Regions from separate parts of the Homo sapiens genome. Here all the other regions are linked to region 1. The links come from fine-mapping of genetic effects on gene expression. A gene starts in region 1. Each other region holds a variant in brackets. All regions are shown on one strand. Distances are between the middles of the regions. Region 1 holds the start of GSTT2B (glutathione S-transferase theta 2B). Region 2 overlaps GSTT4 (glutathione S-transferase theta 4). Region 3 holds the start of GSTT4 (glutathione S-transferase theta 4).

Evidence for each region.
Region 2: its variant is fine-mapped to the expression of GSTT2B in transverse colon (GTEx, PIP 0.90).
Region 3: its variant is fine-mapped to the expression of GSTT2B in stomach (GTEx, PIP 0.92).

The regions. Positions count from the first base shown.
Region 1 is chr22:23,958,963-23,963,110 of GRCh38, reverse strand. GSTT2B (glutathione S-transferase theta 2B) reads left to right here and starts at 1,916. Exons shown (of 5, transcript NM_001080843.4): 1 at 1,916-2,091; 2 at 2,730-2,817. The coding sequence starts at 1,980. RefSeq lists an enhancer at 3,030-3,695.
Region 2 is chr22:23,999,084-24,003,231 of GRCh38, reverse strand. GSTT4 (glutathione S-transferase theta 4) reads left to right here. Exons shown (of 5, transcript NM_001358664.2): 3 at 1,907-2,057; 4 at 2,981-3,157. Among named protein-coding and RNA genes, the nearest start is that of GSTT4, 4.3 kb to the left of the region's middle. The variant G/A (reference allele first, on the strand shown) is at 1,721.
Region 3 is chr22:24,005,238-24,009,385 of GRCh38, reverse strand. It overlaps GSTT4 (glutathione S-transferase theta 4), which reads left to right and starts at 3,933. Exons shown (of 5, transcript NM_001358664.2): 1 at 3,933-4,141. The coding sequence starts at 4,030. It overlaps LOC105372959 (a long non-coding RNA gene), which reads right to left and starts at 3,835. Exons shown (of 2, transcript XR_001755457.1): 1 at 3,794-3,835; 2 at 519-3,668. The variant A/T (reference allele first, on the strand shown) is at 2,043.

The DNA of each region.
Region 1 (4,148 bases):
ACAGTTAAGGTGTGGAAACCTCCTTATTGCCCGATGGATCCTCCAGAGAGGCGGTCCCTTACTTTCAGCAGGGCGCGTGTCTACCTGTTTCATGCTGTCTCACACACAGGGTGCCACCCCTGTGCTGGGCACTGGGTAAGTGCTCTGTACATATTAATTAGGAGTACTCATTTCAAAAATATGTGTGCCTTTGATAAATAAAAACAGTATGTGCATGTTGTGTTGGTGTGTGCTTCCTTGATTATTACTGAAGTTAAACATGTTTTCATCCATGTATTGACCATTTCTCTTTGTCCTTCAATGAAACCTCTGCTGATTTCCTTCGCTCATTTTTTTCCTGTGTCTTCGTCTGATGAGTTTCTCTTCTTTTTGTTTGTTCGTTTGTTTGTTTTGAGACAGTCTCGCTCAGTGGCCCGGCTGGAGTGCAGTGGTATGATCTCAGCTCACTGAAACCTCTGCCTCCAAGGTTCAAGTGATTCTCCTGTCTCAGCCTCCCGAGTGTGCCACCGCACCCAGCTAATTTTTGTATTTTTAGTAGAGACGGGGCTTCACCGTGTTGCCCAGGCTGGTCTCAAACTCCTGACCTCAACTGATCCGCCCATCTCTGCCTCCCAAAGTACAGGGATTACAGGCGTGAACCACCACACCCTACCTGTCTGATGGGTTTCTAAGAACATCTTAAAGGACATTACTTCCTTCTGACGTATCTTTTACCGAGATCCTTCCCAGTTTTTTGCTTAAGGTTAATCCATTTTTTCCTCCACAAAGTAACCTTGTATATGTATTGGTTTTTTCTTTGTTGAGTTCTCCCACTGTTCTGAGGCTTAGAAAGTCCTTTCATACCCAGACATCAGAGAAACAGATCCCGTGAGAGTAACTGGGATTGCAGGTGTGGGCCAGCATGCCCTGTTATCACTCCCTTTCTCTGAGTCAGCTTTTCTCTCTCAGTCTCGTCTACTCCTCGAACTCAGGAAATGTCACTACAGGTGGCCCCAGCTCCCGTTTACCTCCCCATAGGGAGCTCCTCTCTCCAGTTCCAGTTTCAAAACTCCCAAGGAAGCATTCTGGTTCACTCGCTTGGGCCACTGGCCAGAGGGATGGGATACTCTGAAAGATTCAGCTAGAGTCCCGGGCCCAGCCCTGGACCATCACTGTGCCCCCTGGTGAGATGCCAGGGCTGGGATTCAGGGAGAAGAAAGGAGGTTCCCGGACAGTCATTCCTGCCTCCCGCGGCTGCGGGCTCCCTGCCCCCATCCTGTGCACGAAGTGGGAGCTCCCGCTGTCTGGCAGCTCCCGCTGTCTGGCAGCAGCTGCTCTGCAGGGGACAGTCTGGACGGCAGAAAGTTCATCCTTAACCCCAGCCTTCCAGTCAAGGTTCCCACCAGTTTGGGACACCTGCAAGTGTCACATCCCACTGGGTGAAACTCTAAGATCCCTTTTAGGGGATCCCATTCGCTCCCTCCCTTCCGCCACCATGCAGCGCCGAGAAACAGAGCTCTGAACGAACCCTCAGATGTCCGTGCGCTGGGGCCTTTCCAGGACGGCGGCGCCCAGTCGTTTCTGGGTCAGGGCGACGCCTGGAACTGGGCAGGGTCCCTGGCACCGGGATCCCGAAAAGCAGACCTGCTTCTCCCTGTCCAGCCGGTTCCCCTTCCCCTTGCAGTCGGCCCCCTGCATCCGCGTCCTCCCTGCCAGTCGAGGGTCCCCAGCTCCAACTCCACCCTCCCAGCTGTGCGTTCATAGCGACCGCCCTCCCTGTAGGGACGCACGGATCTGGTGGTGGAGTCTTGGCCGGCAGGACTGGACAGGAACCGAAGGGGCGAGGCGGGTCCGGGGGTGGTGCGCTCCAATTGGGTGCTGTCCCCAGGGGGTGGGGCCTGATCCCCTATTTCCCGGCGCGCCGGGATCCTGCCACAGCTGCTGCCCACACCGCGCTCAGCGCCTTCACTGCCATCCCCGCTGTCCTTGCCGCCCCCGCCATGGGCCTAGAGCTGTTTCTTGACCTGGTGTCCCAGCCCAGCCGCGCCGTCTACATCTTCGCCAAGAAGAATGGCATCCCCTTAGAGCTGCGCACCGTGGATTTGGTCAAAGGTGGGCCCAGCCCGTTTCCCCGCGTGTCCACAAACCCAGTGCACCCCCAGGCCCCCGCCCTGCTCTGCCCTGAGCGTCTCGCCGCCCGCACAGCCCCCTCACCTCCTCCTGCAGCGTCTGCCACCAGAGAATGCTGTGGACTGAGTGGCCTTGGAGGGATCACAGCCTCTCTGAACCTTAGCTTGCCTTCTGAAAAGGAGGATAATGTTACCTTCTGCTCTGTAGGGATGGAAAGAAAATACTGAATGGAGTTGACAGAGTTCTTGCGTGGAATGCACGCATATAAATTCACAAAGCCCAGAAGACCTTGGGAAGAAGGACATGCTGTTGTGAGAATTAAGAGATGGGAAGAGATGAGCCACCCCAGTTTGCCTCCCCTCCCCTGGCCCACCAGAGTCCGGCTAGAAAACTTCTCTTTATCCACCTGCTGCACCTGGCCCCACCCACCAAAGCCCCCCAGCTGCCCCGGAATGTGGCAGGGCAGGGAGGCCCAGCCAGGGAGTGAGGCTGATCCAGGCCTCTAGTCCCAGACCTTGCTGTTTCTCAGGGCTGTGGGGCTCCGCTTGGGGAGGAGGAGGGAGGGTGTAGAGGTGCAGCGTTTTTATTCTGAAGACCTTTTCTGACTTCTTCCTCTTCAGGGCAGCACAAGAGCAAGGAGTTCTTGCAGATCAACAGCCTGGGGAAACTGCCGACGCTCAAGGATGGTGATTTCATCTTGACCGAAAGGTGCCCTCCTTCCCTCACCCCTCACCGCATCCGGAGCCCATGTGACCTTGGCTCTCCCCACTGGCCCCGGGCCCCAGTGGCCCTCCCATACCCCATGGGGCAGCGAGGGAGGGGAAAGGCGAGGGATCTGGCCGGGCGCGGTGGCTCACGCCTGTCATCCCGGCACTTCGGGAGGCCAAGGCGGGCGGATCACGAGGTCAGGAGACCGAGACCATCCTGGCTAACACCGTGAAACACCGTCTCTACTAAAAATGGAAAAAAAATTAACCGGGCGTGGTGGCGGGCGTCTGTAGTCCCAGCTACTCTGGAGGCTGAGGCAGGAGAATGGTGTGAACCCAGGAAGCGGAGCTTGCAGTGTGCTGAGATCGCGCCACTGCACTCCAGCCTGGGCGACAGAGCTAGACTCCGTCTCAAAAAGGCCGGGCGCGGTGGTTTACGCCTGTAATCCCAGCACTTTGGGAGGCCGAGGTGGGCGGATCACGAGGTCAGGAGATCGAGACCATCCTGGGTAACACGGTGAAACCCTGTCTCTACTAAAAATACAAAACATTAGCAGGGCGTGGTGGCGGCCGCCTGTAGTCCCAGCTACTGGGGAGGCTGAGGCAGGAGAATGGCGTGAACCCAGGAGGCGGAGCTTGCAATGAGCAGAGATAGCACCACTGCACTCCAGCCTGGGTGACAGAGGGAGCCCACTCCAGCCTGGGCGACAGAGGGAGACTCCGTCTCAAAAAAAAAGGAAAGAAAGAAAGGAGAGGTATCTGGGGAGAAGGTACAGCTTGGGGTGTGACCGGGATGAGCAGGGGCTGACAGAACATGTCCCCCCACCTCTCATCTTCCAGCCTTTTCTGAGCCGCAGGGCCTCTCCACTCCCAGACTGAAGGGTATTAGAAGAGAAGACAAGGGAACATTTTTCCACTGTTGCGCATTTGTTCAACAAATGCTAGCTGAAAAGAGCCTCTAGTGACTTGTTGCAGACTACCCAATCTACCCAGGCCGGGCCTAGAGGCCAATGCCATGGCCCAAGGGCACAGCTCATGGTGAGGTCCAGCTGCTGGGCAGGAAAAGGACAAGAGGTCAGGTGGCTGCAGAAGTGATGGCTGGGGGCCTGTCAGACGGGGGCCAAAGACATTCCTCCCCTCGTGATCCCTGACCCAAGCGCGTGGACATGCAAGGGACTCCACGGAGCATCCACTGTGTGCCAGCCCCATGCAGGGTTCCAGGGGTCCAGGGAGCCTATTCTGAGCTGCACCGCCTCGGACAAGTCACTTGACCATTCTGACCTTGAGTTTTCTCTTGTGCTAAAAGGCTAACAGGAGTGTCTACCTCACAGG
Region 2 (4,148 bases), 40 kb before region 1:
TCAAAAATAAAAATAAATAAGTAAATAAATCAATAAATGTTTAGGAACATACTTTTCAGAGATAAGAGTTCTTAAAACAAACAAAAAAAAAGCAACAGGCTGGGTGTGGTGGCTCATGCCTATAATCCCAGCACTTCCAGAGGCTGACACGGGAGGATCGCTTGAGGCCAGGAAGTTCAGAACTGCAGTGAACTCTGATTGCGCCACTGCACTCCAGCCTGGGCTAGGATAGAGCGTAGCATCACTACGATACCATTAAGATACCTCATAAAATTAACAATAATTCCTGGATTTCATCTAATATGTGGCTCCTGTTCAAAACTCTATGATTATCTCCTAAACATTTTCTTGGCAGTTTGTTTGGATCAGGATCCAAAGAAGTTTTTTTTTTTTTTTTTTTTGAGACGGAGTCTCGCTCTGTTGCCCAGGCTGGAGTGCAGTGGCGCTATCTTGGCTCACTGCAAGCTCCGCCTCCCGGGTTCACGCCATTCTCCTGCCTCAGCCTCCTGAGTAGCTGGGACTACAGGTGCCCGCCACCATGCCTGGCTAATTTTTTTGTATTTTTAGTAGAGACGGGGTTTCACTGTGTTAACCAGGATGGTCTCGATCTCCTGACCCCATGATCCCCCCGCCTCGGCCTCCCAGAGTGCTGGGATTACAGGCGTGAGCCACCGTGCCCAGCCAAGAAGTTCTGAGTCTTGCAGCCAGTTGCTGTCTCTCCTGCCACTTTTTAACCGATAGCTCTCTCCATGCCCTGACCTTTTTACCTTGGCATGGTTGCTGCTGGTGATGATAAAGGAGCCCTTGTTCTGCGGAGGTTCCCACACCAGCCATCAATCAGCAAGGCCTAGGACATCCCCTCCGAAGCATGTCTCCCCTCCATCCCCTTCCCTCTGTCCCCATGGCCTCCAACATTCCCAGACACCACAACCTTCCCGATAGTTGCTGGCCCCCTCATTGTCCATTCTGCCCCCTCGGGCTCACCCTCCATCCAGCACCAGAGAGATGGATCCTTTCATGCCCTGGCTTATATAATGCCTAATCTTAAGCATTAAGTCCATAACCTCCCTGCACCTCCAGGGGCTACCCTACGTGGACTCCACAGTGTCTCTGGCTGCCTCATCACTCCCCAATCACCCCCACCCTTCTTCCAGTTGCAACCCCCTACTCTCTTTTCTTCAGATTTACCTTGCTCCCTTTACCCTCGTATTTCAGCATGTGTTTTTCTTTGTTGGTTTTTTGAGACAGAGTCTTGCTCTGTGGCCCAGGCTGGAGTACAGTGGCACAATCTTGGCTCACTACAACCTCTGCCTCCCAGGTTCAAGTGACTCCCGTGCCTCAGCTTCCCAAGTAGCTGGGATTACAGGTGTGTGCCACCACAACTAGCTAATTTTTGTATTTTCATTTTAGTAGAGACAGGGTTTCACCATGTTGGCCAGGCTGGTCTCCAACTCCTGGCCTCAAGGGATCTGCCCCCATTGGCCTCCCAAAGTGCCGGGATTACAGGTGTGAGCCATCGTGCCCCCCCGTTTTTGTTTTTGAAAAAGGATCTTGATCTTTCACCCAAGCTGGAGTGCAGTGGTGTGATCTTGGCTCACAGTAGCCCCAAATTCCTGGGATCAAGTGATCCTCCCACCTCAGCATCCCAATTCAACACGTGTTGTTCCCCCTGCTGGCCTACTCTTTGTTATACCACCAGCCCCCAACTCCTACTCACCCC[G/A]CAGGGCTCCTTCCCAGCCCTTACTGACTGTCAGACAGACAGCTCTGGTGAAGGTCTTTCTCGGGGCCGTTTGGGCTCCTCTTTGCTCTGGAAGCCCCAGCAGTTGGGCCCAGGCCACACCGGGGTGGTTGATGTAGTGGCACTCAGGAAGGCAAGGGCAGTGCCCCTGACCGGCCCCTTCTGCAGCGCGGCCATCCTTTACTACCTGTGCCGCAAGTACAGCGCACCATCGCACTGGTGCCCGCCAGACCCGCACGCACGTGCCCGTGTGGATGAGTTCGTGGCTTGGCAACACACGGCCTTTCAGCTGCCCATGAAGAAGATAGTCTGGCTCAAGGTGAGCAGGGCCACTTCTGGGGCTTGGGGACACGGGCACAGGGAAGTCAGGAAGGCTGGAGGCCAGTTCTGGCCCTGCTGACTGCCGGCGACCTCAAGCAAGTCTCCCTCCCTCTCTGGGCCTCATTTCCTCAGCTCCTTCTCCTGCCCGCCTTACAGAGCCGTCAGGAGTGTGGACTGAAACAATGGGCATGAAAGAGTCTTATTAGGGCGAGGGGAAGGGCATACGGGAGGGGCTGATGTGACTCACCCAGGACAGCATTCGAGGCATTTCATTCTGAACTAGAGAATCTCAGCGTCAAAAGGCCCACAGAAGGCCGGGTACGGTGGCTCACAACTGTAATCCCAGTACTTTGGGAGGCCGAGGCGGGCAGATCACTTGAGGTCAGGAGTTCAAGACCTACCTTGCCAACATTGTGAAACACCATCTCTACTAAAAATACAAAATTATTAGCTGGGTGTGGTGATGGGCACCTGTAATCCCAGCTACTCAGGACGCTGAGGCAGGACAATTGCTTGAACCCAGGAGTTGGAGTTGGCAGTGAGCCAAGATTGTGCCACTGCACTCCAGCCTGGGCGACAGAGTGAGACTCCATCTCAAAAAACAAAAACAAAAAAGAGTATGGCCTATAGAAAATTAGAAGATGACAAATAACCAGTACATGTGTCTCTACTTTGAATTCTATGCCTGTGACAGACATCACTAATCAATCACAGGACTTATGCCTGCTGAGCTCCCCAAATCCTTGTGAACACATGGTTCCCAGCAACTTCCACCAATCAGAACTGCTAAAAGAGGTGAAACTGCTTTATATCCTGGGAAGTGTTCAATATCTATCCAGCAGACAAGAGTACAGAGACCTGGCAGGGCAGGTGGCCCTGGAGTGCAGCCTCCTCTTCCCTCCTCTTCCCAACCCTGGCCAGTTGCTGATCCCAAAGATAACAGGGGAGGAAGTTTCAGCTGAGAAGATGGAGCATGCAGTGGAAGAGGTGAAGAACAGCCTGCAGCTCTTTGAGGAGTATTTTCTGCAGGATAAGATGTTCATCACCGGGAACCAAATCTCACTGGCTGACCTGGTGGCCGTGGTGGAGATGATGCAGGTGTGGAGTGGATTGGAGGAGGGTTAGACCCTGGGCAGAGGTAGGACTCCTCTGTGACCAATGGGGCCATCACTTGAGGATAGGCTGGTGAGGCGGGAAAGGCAGGCAGAGCTGCCATGGGGGCTGCGGGAACCAGGCCTGGGGGCCTGGACTCAATCGGGGCAACAGGAAGCACAGAATGTTATGAATCAGGAAGGATCACAGTTCTCCACACTTGACAAAGATTCTTCGGTGTGGGAGGACCCGGAGGGTGAGCCTGGGATAGAGAAGAACACTGCATTTCCTGCTCAATCCACCGGCATCCCAGATACCTCCTCCTCTTGCTGGACTCTCCAGGAAATGTTCACTGGCTTCCTGGGTGTCCTTCTGGCCCTGCCTGTTTCCCAGAGCTCCAGACAGACAGCTCTGGAGGACAGCTCTCGTGGCTGGGTCTGAGGGGCATCCACTGTGCATTTGGAGGCACACCTGAGTGTGGGGCATTTATGTGGCCTCTACATGCAGGGGAGGGTGACCAGTTCTGCTTGTCAAGACACTGGCCAGGGTCTCAACTGGCCATCCTGCACACCAGCTAGGGCACTGCACACTGACCAAAGAGACTAATTTGCATATCAGCCAGAGATATGCCCGAGAGGAGGGACCTGGGGTCCTGGTGGATTGACCAGAAAATGCAGTATTCTTTTCCTTATCCCAGAGATCTCTGGCTGATATGAAAATTAGTCTCCTTGGTCTGTTTGCAGGGCAGACCAGCACCAGGAAAAATCATTCTGGCCTGCCCCAAGGGTTCAGCCATATGCTTCGTCCCCACCCCTTACATTTCACCCACACACACCCATTCTTGGGCTTCCCAAAGATCTTGGGTGCAAACCAAACTCTTAGTAAGCCAGCGAAACTGCAGGGTAGACTGCCCGCCAGGTCTCCCATCCTAGCCCCTGAGCTTGATCACAGTGGGAGGCTAAACATGGAGGAAAAAACCTGAGTTCTCTCCCTCATC
Region 3 (4,148 bases), 46 kb before region 1:
CTGGGTCTTGTTCCCTTATCAAAGTAGCTGTGGGCATGCCTTAGGCACAAAGATCAAAGGTGTTTCTGTGTTGGGCATTGTTCCTTTATCTGAGTGAGCCAGAGGTTTGTGCAAGTTTCCTTATCTGTGCCTGAAGCCTGATTTTTCAGGCTGTTCCTCTGTTTAAAGGAGTTTTACCAAGGACCCACCTTAATTACCTAACTTTTCTCTCTCAATATCACTCTCACTACACTGAGGATGGCAGATTTAACATGGGGAATCTATATCAAAGACTGTGGCCTTATGGTCTTGGTGAGAGTTAGGCCTGAATCCCATCCATGGTGACCGCAACGATTCATTCATATCCAATGCAAGCATTCCCTGAGGCACTCTGGGAAGCAGGACACCATGAAACACACTGGCAGAGGAATGAGTGCAAAATACTTGGGTCAGGGGTCCAGGGGAAGGAACTCCAAGGTCTAGCTATCAATGAAAGTCCTTAGCAGTGGTTAGGTACAAACACACCAGGCACAGGCATATTCCATTAGAAATTGATTTTATTAACTACATAGACTGCACAGACTGAAAATCTGAATTTGGTGTTTCACTGGTACGCTAAAGATAAGGATCATCAAAGGTTTATGCAGGGAAACAGTGACCACCACGGTGTCCAAGGGTCATTAGAGGAAAATTCTGCATGGAACATGTGGAAAGCTACAGAAATGGAGACTCCCTATAGGCTCCCCCACACCACCCCTACATACTTTGACATTCAACAGACTGATAGGATATTTAGATAAGAGGGTGGGGACCTCATTCATTCAGTTTCAATGCAGTTTCGGCGCTGACATTGCATTTCCAGGTTTGGCATTCTGGGACATGGGTTTTACAAGGTGCCTAGCTACAGAGAATTATCAGCAAGAGTTAACAGAGAAGATGAAGTTCTCTGCCCAGGAATGCCCAGAGAAAGTCCCTGAAGACAAATCTGCCCTGTGCTCTGGCCCACTACAGCAGACTATGGAGAGGAAACAGCTCAGAACTAGTGGAGAAGGGCTGAGCAACTCCTGGAGGTCCAGAATTCTGGGGAGGGCAGGTGAGAGGAGCAGCAATGGGGCTTGAGCTCTTCCTGGACCTGACACACTATCCACTTTTGCAAGACAGAATGACATCCCTTTTGAGCTGTGGATGGTGGAGTTGGCTTGGGGTGAGCCAGGTGGCTGGGCTGGGCCCCATGGAGTGGGTGCCAAGGACCAGGCCCTACACTGAGCCTTCTCTCCTTTCTGCCCACCAAGGGAGCACCTGAAGCCTGAGTTCCTGAAGGTGAACCCCCTGGGGAAGGTGCCTGCCCTCAGAGATGGCGACTTCCTACTAGCAAAGAGGTAATGGTGACCTGGTGCCCACCCAGGGTCAGAGCCAGGATCTGCCTGGGTTCTGGGGCTCAGAGTTGTAGGGGGAGGCAGAGGCGAGAGGGGAGATCTTTCCTTGGCTTGGAGATCTTTCCAAATCACTGAGGCCCCTTCCTCATTTCAGCCTGTGTAGCTCCGATGCAGAGGCTGGACCCAGGGGCACCTTTGGGCTAAAGCTGGAGGCTGGAACCTGGCTAGAGTCTGAGCCAGCTGGAGCTGCCCAGGTGGGGAAAGGACGTAGGTCACCCGGATAAACCTGGACAACCTGAAGCCAGCGGGCAAGGCCCAGGCTTGAGGCTGGCTCCTCCCCAAATGTCCCCAGCTCATCCTTTCAGAGTCCTAGGAGCTGGGCAGACCCAGGGGAGACTCCACATTCAATCCCAGCTCACCACTTCCTCAATCCATGCCCTTGGGGAAATCACAGAACTTTGTGTGCCAGGTTTCTCCTCTGTAAAACGGAGTGGGAGGAATAATGTATCCACCTCCCAGGGCTTACCTGAGGATAGAAAATGGGCACCTAGTGTTCTGGGGCACTAGGAAGGGAACTTGGAGACCTTTTGGGCAGGGCCCACACGGCAGGCACTCTGAGTGGGGACCCTGATGCCAGGGAGTGGGGCCTGGGCACAGAGGGCAGGATGGTATGGTAACTGGGAGGGG[A/T]GGTGGAAACATGGGCCCAGGGAGGATCAGAGTTGGAAATGGAGAAACAGAGTGGTTTGGTCGTGGGGAGATACTGCCTGGAGGGAGTTGCAGTATAGGGGAGGTCCTCCCCTGAAGGTGAAGGTGGGGAGAAAACCTGGTCAAATCACCCTGAGTATGAGCAATGAAGCCACCTGGCCCTGACAGGCTGGAGAAAAGATCTCTGACACCCCCTGCCCACAGCATGGTCATCGTTTTATACCTGAGTCGAAAGTACCAGATACGGGGACACTGGTACCCACCTGAGCTGCAAGCCCGCACCTGCGTGGATGAGTACTTGGCGTGGAAGCATGTCACCATCCAGCTGCCTGCCACCAATGTCTACCTGTGCAAGGTGAGCTTCCTAGGCCCTGTCATGCAGGCTGGGGCAGGGGCCTGGACCCCCAGAGATGGAAGGCACCAGTTGGTACATATTACATATTAGCTTCACTTCCACTGTCCTCAGCAGACATAACTAATCTATCACAGTACTCCTTCCCCTAAGCCTGAATGAATCCTTAGAAACCTTCTGAACACAGAGCCCCAGAGGACATCACTAATGAGTGGCAGCCGGGAAGGGATGGAGAGGAGGCCCAAGAGGCTTCCAAGAGTCTGGGTTAAGTTGCTCCTCTCCTCCCAGCCCAGTCTCTCCTGCCCCACTTCTCCGGACAGCCTGCAGATGCTGCACAGCTGGAGCGGCTGTTGGGGAGGCTGATGCCAGCCCTGCAGCACCTGGATTGGGGGGTGCTGGTGGCCAGGCCCTTCCTGGCAATGGAGCAGATCTCCCTGGAAGACTTGGTGCTGACGGAGGTGATGCAGGTGAAGCTTTCCTACCCACCTGCCCTCTGGGGGGACTCTGGGCATGGGGCTGAGCCCCAACCCCAGCTGCCCTGTCTTCCCAGCCCACTGCCGTTGGCTGCGACCTCTTCCAAGACTGCCCCGGCTGGCAGTGTGGCAGGCCCGTGTGGCGGCTGCCCTTGGTACTGAGCTCTTGCTGGAGGCCCACAAGCTCATACTCCAGCCTCTGAACCACAGTGAGGCTTGGCGGGACCCCCAGCTGGCCCAGAAGCAGGTGCAGTGGGTGCAGCCCACTCCACTGCACCCTGCTGTCTGCAATAAACACACTGCATGCTCTTCGCTTGTCTCCAGGCTTACTCTGTCACCAGAAGTGGGGTCAGTCCCATTTCTCAGCCTAGACCTATTAGATCACAGCATAGAGTGAGTGGCACTCAGTCCTCTACGTGGGGCTCTAGTTACCTTCCTTGGCCACCAGGTACACAGTCTGGCCACTGCAGCCCCAACCAAGGCCAGGAAGTTTCTAGGCTCCTCTGTGTGGCACACACCGGCTGAGTGCCCCCTGACTTCCTGGTGGTGGTGTCCCCATTGCTCCCAAAGCTCACAGTTTCCTGTGTCTCTTTCTCCCAGTTCCTTTCTAGTCATAGTTCAGGCTCGATTCACCTGTGTCTCTTTCTCCCAATTCCTTTCTAGTCATAGTTCAGGCTCGATTTACCTGTGGATACTCCCAGCCTCTACTTCTAGAATCCTCCAGGGATAATTCTCATTGCCTCCTCTTCATTCTGGACCCTGCAAAGCCCCTTTCGTCAGGTTCTGCAATGAAAATCCAGCCGTGGGAATTCCCAGGCATAATCCCTTCTCAGACTGGTGTCTGTGAGGTGGCACCACGGGGCACAGGCACACGTGGAAGGGGGAGAGTAGGGTCACGGCTGCCACACCTTTGCCACGGGCCTCTCCCCAGCCTACTCCTGGGCCTCCTTAGAATCCTTGATGCTGTGAGAATTGCAGGCTTCCTGGCCTTATGACAACACAAAGGGAAACAAGAGGTTTCCCTGGGGAACACAGGATCCTGGGCCCAGATCGGAGAGGGCACAGGGCCAGGGACTCTGGCCAGACATAGGCCCAGGTCTGTGGCTGGCCAACTGCGGCTGTGGGGCCTGGCATGTGTCTCAACATGGCACTGGAGCTCTACATGGACCTGCTGTCAGCACCCTGCCGTGCCGTCTACATCTTCTCGAAGAAGCATGACATCCAGTTCAACTTTCAGTTTGTGGATCTGCTGAAAGGTCAACT